Linked DNA regions of Homo sapiens: region 2 is linked to region 1. The links come from fine-mapping of genetic effects on gene expression. A gene starts in region 1. The other region holds a variant in brackets. All regions are shown on one strand. Distances are from middle to middle.

Evidence for each region.
Region 2: its variant is fine-mapped to the expression of SOST in prefrontal cortex (GTEx, PIP 0.96).

Annotation. Positions count from the first base shown.
Region 1 is chr17:43,757,228-43,760,131 of GRCh38, forward strand. SOST (sclerostin) reads right to left here and starts at 1,564. Exons shown (of 2, transcript NM_025237.3): 1 at 1,295-1,564. The coding sequence starts at 1,514.
Region 2 is chr17:43,695,848-43,698,751 of GRCh38, forward strand. All of the region lies in intron 3 of LINC02594 (long intergenic non-protein coding RNA 2594), which reads left to right. Among named protein-coding and RNA genes, the nearest start is that of LINC02594, 32 kb to the left of the region's middle. The variant G/A (reference allele first, on the strand shown) is at 1,828.

The DNA.
Region 1 (2,904 bases):
CATGTGGCTTCCTCAGGGGCTGTGGCCTCTCGTGGGAGTCCAGCAAGGTGGACATTTTGTGTTTGGGTTCCTTACAGCCCTTCAGGCAGTCGCTGGAGCCCAGCTGACCTTGCCTAGAAGGGGAGCTGTGGGGGGAGGCGCCCTTGTCCTCCATTTTGAAGACGGAGGGTCCTGGCTGGCCTCCCATGCAGTTGCCCTTTTTAGCACCCCATAGTCCCAACAGGTTGTGAGGCGGGGAGGGCTGGGGTCCAGGAGCCTGGGCAGTGGACTTCTCTGCCACCTGGATAATGGCCAGAGGACAGGGAAGCTCTTAGTCTGAAGTGTCATTTCAGACGCCCCCATGGCCTCAGGATTCCTGCCAATTATAGAGCCAGATGCACACTGTCACCTGGGCTTCTCTGTGCAGGCCTGACCAGGAACCCAGGGTTCCTCTTCCTTCTCCCTCCCCTGGAATGAGGCAAGGTTGGGACTGGGGTGGCTGCTGAGGACAGATGTCCCTACTCCTGCACAGAGGATGCTGCTCTCCCCTCCAGGGCCTGGACTCAGCTGCACCCATGTCAGGGGCTAAAACTGTGCCGAAAACTCCCATTCCTTCAAGTGCCAGCTCCCTGGGCAGGCCGTGGGCAATGCACACTGCAGGGGTGCCTCTCTGGCCTTCCTCCCCACTGCTTTGTGGAGATCTGTCCCCCACACCCCCCCACACACCAGGGCTATCTTGCAGTTGGATCAAACCAGGTTCACACCTCAGCTCTTCTCACTACCAAGTTACTGAGTGCCTGGAACCTGTTTCTTCCCCTTCGAGCTGGGGGTTCACCTCCTGGGGATTCCATGATGTGGGTCTGTGTGGTGGGGACAGCCACCACCAGCATAGAGTGTCCGGTGCCCCACAGGTGCTGTTCTGTGGATGGGAGGCTCCCTTACCTTGTTCCCTTCCCAGTGGTACCAGCAGCTGGACGTGGCTCCTATATTCCCAGGAGGAGATTCTTTGAAACCTTTTCTTTTCTGAGCCCCTGAGCCTGTTCTGATGCCCTGATGCCATACCCTCACCACCCCAGCGTCCTCCCTGCCCTGGGCTCTCACCAGCGTCTGTTGCCTCATGCCTCTGCACCTGAATTTGAAGGCTGCACCAGCGAGCCATTCTTCCCCCACCTCCAGGCAAGACTGTTCCTCGACCAGTGCTGGCAGAGGCCAGCAATCTTCACTGGGTCTACCCCAGTCTTCCAAGCCTCCCAAAGAGAAGTTTCTAAAACCTCCCCAGGATCTTTTACTAAGAATTCTCTCCTCCACCCCATACCTTTGGTCTCAAAGGGGTGGTGGGGAGGCCGCCCTCCGTTCTCCGCCCGGTTCATGGTCTTGTTGTTCTCCAGCTCCGGTGGAGGCTCGGGGTACTCTCCGAGCTCGGGGATGATTTCCGTGGCATCATTCTTGAACGCCTGCCACCCCTGGCCCTCCACTACACGGAAGGCTGTGTGTACCAGCAGGCAGACGAGACACAGGGCCAGTGGGAGCTGCATGGTACCAGCCAGAGGAGGGCACGCCACCTTCCAGTAGCACAGGCTCTGGTCTCCAGCCGAGACACGGTCGCCTTTTTAAAGCCCCTCTCTGCTTCATGCCAGCCAATGAGGACAGGCTGGGGCAGGGCTGGTCCCATGTTTCCCTCAGCCCCGGAGGGAGGGAAAGGGGTGTGCTCAGAGCAAACCCTCCCCAAAGACTTCTCCTCTAGCTCAGCAAACTTCCAAATTGCTGCTGGCACTCCCAGGTGACCCAGAGAGAGGGGGCGTGTGAGGCAAGGCCCAAGCCTGCTCTCCGGCACCTCCCACGTGCTGGCGGCTGTGGTTTTCAGATATCAAAATGAGCTCCGGCTTTTAATTGTCTGTCTCCCTGGGCCCTCGGGCATTCTCAAAACAAACTGTGGACCCGCTCAACAAAGAAAATGTGCAGTTCTGAGTGCTTCGCGGGGCTGAGCCCGGCCTATTCCATTTCTCAGGCCAAGTTCATTTGTCACCCCACCAACAAATGGCCCAAGGCGTTTCTGTTTGACCCCCATAGACCCAGCCAGAGGCAAAAAGATGCTTTTAAAGAAATCCCATTGGTCCCAACTCCACAAGTCTCAGCATTCATTGTCCTAACCAAGAAAGCCTCTCTTGGTATTCTCTGGAAGGCAAGAGAGAGAACTAGAGGGTCAGAGCAAGGGTGCCCGCTTGGGAGAGAGGGCAGGATTCTGGTTACAAATCGAGGATGCGCTGGTCACTCAGGCTCCTGTGGTGGACAGCACAGAGGAAATCCCAGCTCATGCTCCTCAGGGATCCTGTGCACTGTGACAGGCACTTCTGAGCCAGGGCACTCACTGTGGCTCGCAGGGTGATGTGCTGAAGACAGTCATTTCCCCAACCAGTCTGTGTGTGTGAGAAGACAACACCAAATTCCTTTCCTTAGCAAAAGCCACAGCCAGCGTTTTTAGTGCTGACATTTTATTTTCTTGTCTTCCAGCTGGTTACATTTTTCAAAAACAGTTTTGAGTCCTGTATGGAAAGCTTCATTGGTGCACACCACAGGATGTGTTCCATGAAGCCATCCCAGGACCAAGTGGTCACAAAGAAGCTAAGAGAAAATGCTGCCTTGGCCCTGCATATAATGAGCCACACAGGGCCGGGGCGGGGGGCGGGGGGGCAGGTAGAGGCGTGGGGGAGAAGGATTCACACCTGAGGTGCAAGAAGAGAAAGGAAGGCCAGAGGAATCTTTCATTGAAGACAGATTGTTTGAGGACAAGCAGCTCCTGTGAAGAGGCTGCCCAGATCCTCTGGTATTTTAACTGGGCAATGAATCAGCATGCCCCACCTGCAGAGCCTCTGCAAGTCCTTTGCCACCTGCCTCAACTTGCAAGTCGCTGTGTCCATCTGCAGC
Region 2 (2,904 bases), 61 kb before region 1:
GGACAGAGTGGTAAATTCTAATCAAGCCTTCCCATGGCTTTGTGGATGAGGATGAGTTTCTACCCTGAAGCTCGGCCTGTTCAGCCATAAAATCAGGATAATGGTGGCTGTGCCTCCTTAGAGTAGAATGAGAATCAGAGCAGAACAAGGGAAAGCTGCAGTGACTTGTCAGGTGTCAACCTTCAGCATGATGGGAGAGCCATGGGACCCTTCCCCTTTCCCTAAGAGAGCCAGCCCTCACAGCAGGCCTGGGATCCAATGCCCAGCACCCAGCTGGGAGCCCAGGGACCTTGGCCAAAATCTGGTTCTGCTTCAACTTGGTGCCCGGCCTTTGTCAAGTCACTTCCTCATTTGCAAACTGGGAGAGTTTGGATGAAACTATTGAATGAAATTATTTTGGGGGTTTCTTTCTGGCTCTCACAGTCCTCGCATGCTCACCATGTTCCCTTCAATTTCATTAGCACAGCCCAACAAAGGGTTAAGCAGTGGCAGTTCCTCTCGTTCTTTGGTTAGGACAGGAAGGTCAGGGGTGAGGCCAATACAAGAGGTAGCCGCCACAGCTGATGCTGGAAATGACAATAGTTCTTTCCTAGACTCATATTTGTCCCCTCTCCCTGAAGCTTTGCCTGCAGTGCCCTTGTAAAGAAGTTGGCAAGAAGCAGGAGTGAGGCTCAGCCCCTCTCTGAAATGGATACGCCGGTTGCTCCCCCTCATGGCTGGTCTCATTTGCCTTCTTCATTTTTAGACACATTCCAAACTTTTCAGCAAATTATAGTGTTTGCCAACTGGCCGTCTGGGGCCCAGGAGAGATGCTATTTATAGCGATGCTGGGATGCTGCCATCCCAGAGCAGCCTGGTAAGAAACGGAGCCAGAGTGCCTGGGAGTGGCGTCCTGCACCCTGGGGAGAGGCCAGGGCCCTGGAGCAGGGTGGCAAAGCTGGTGGCCCGTGGCAAGGACCACTGGCACATCCCCTGCCTGCCTGGGCCCTGGGGTCTGTGCCCATACCCCACACGGGGGGCTGCTTCCGTGCTCCTTGGAGAGACGATGGTGCTGTGGGGCCACTGAGCACAGTAAAGGCTAAGACCCACCATAGGTCAGCCCTTGCTCATGCTGACTGTTGCCCCATTTCCCTTCATTCTCTCACTCGTTCATTCCTCAGAATCTGCATCCTGGTTTTGTCACTACCTGGAGTTGTAAAGATACCACCAAGCTCACCTTGTGGTGTGAGCCTTGATTTTCCCCATCTGTGTAAAGGGTGGATCTGAGCTCCAAAGTTCCTTCTAGTCATATGCAGAGTGCATAATAAATGTGTTTGTATTCCCACTGTGCTCAGTGGGCACTGGGGCATGCAGAAGAGAAATTGGAATAAATGTGACCCTTGTCCTCCAGAGGCTCAGTACCAGACTGGAACCAGGACCCAGATGAGGGGCCTACCCAGAGAGGGCAGCGTGCTCTCCTATTTGTGTTAGGCGTTACCATTTACAAAGGGCTTTACGGCTTTGAAGGTCCCCACAACGCCCTGAGGAGGTGAAGTGTGGCAATGCCCGTTCACTTGGGAAAATACTGCATCTCAGAGAGACCAAGGGACTCGCTTAAGGTCACACAGATACAGTAAGTAAGTAGGGAAAGAGCTGGGGCCTCTGGGCTCCTTTTCCGGGGCTCTGGCCTCGGTTTTAACCCGTTCTCCTAGACCTCTCAGTCTCTGGGCCTCCCCTCTGTGTTCCCCACCCCCACTTTCCATCAAGAGCTCAGTTCTCTTAAGTTCTATATTCTCTCTTCCCCACCCCTAGAAATCTCTGCCCGCTTCCAGAAAAGGCTTTGATTCC[G/A]TCATTTTTGGCATTTCCCACCCAGGAATCAAGGCTGCCTCCTCTGTGAGGAAGGCGTGTGGAAGGCGAGCAGCTGAGGACACCTCTTTTTAAGAGAAGCTTCTCCATGTTCTTAGCCAGGTTATATAACTTCTTTTGCTTCTTTCTTTTCCACATTCTACATATTTTTCACAATGAGGATGTGTCACTTCTATAGTTAAAAATGGAAATCTTCATTTAAAAGAACAATCAGACACAAGGCAAGGTATGCTTACCTTCCCAATGACCAAGGAGCAGGGAGACATTGGTCGTGGAGGCCATAGGTGACCAGCCTTGAGGGAAGGGAAGGAAGGGGAGGTGCAGGGAGGCGCAGCAGAGGCACCCGAGTGTGCTCTACGAATGTAAGTCTGCCAGCTGCTCCTCTGTGCCTAGCACCCTGGAAAGCGCCCGCACACAGTGGGCCCTCAGCAAACTCCCACTGAGCAAAGGGCCCTGTGAGTAAGGACCTAGAAGCAGGGTGTGCTTGAGGCATGGGGTGGGAGGGCATCCAGCTTGGCTGGCGGTGGGAGCCGATGCAAAGGTGAGCTGAGACCAGACGGTAGAAGACCTTCAGTGCTGGGCCGAGGAGGGTTCCTTCATCCCATAGAGAAGAGCTGCCATCCAAGACAGAAGGCTGGGGAGTGACATGTTGAAATCAGTATCTTAGGAAAATAAAGCCACTGGCTGGGCCACTGGCTCCCCTTTGTAGAGGGGTCTACGAAGCTCCCGAGGTTTCAGATAGTCCCTGAGAGCCCTTCCCCTCGCGATGGGCTCCGTTTGAGGCATGTCCAGTGTGAAAGGACCACAGGCCACCTGAGGGACAGGACCAAGCAGAGAGCTAGTGACAGAATGCCCAGGGCTCCAAGACAGGGCTGGAGAGGTGGGAGTGGTCCCCACCTTGAGAGCCAAAGGGGCTGAGGGCTGAGGGTTGAAGGCCGAGAGCCAGGAAGGTCCAGGGGAGCAAAAGGGGGAGCAGAGGGGGAGCTGGAGGTGTTGGGGTGGTGGGTAGAGAGCCAAGATAGGGAGGGGACAAGAGAGGGGAGAATCTCAAGGAAAAGC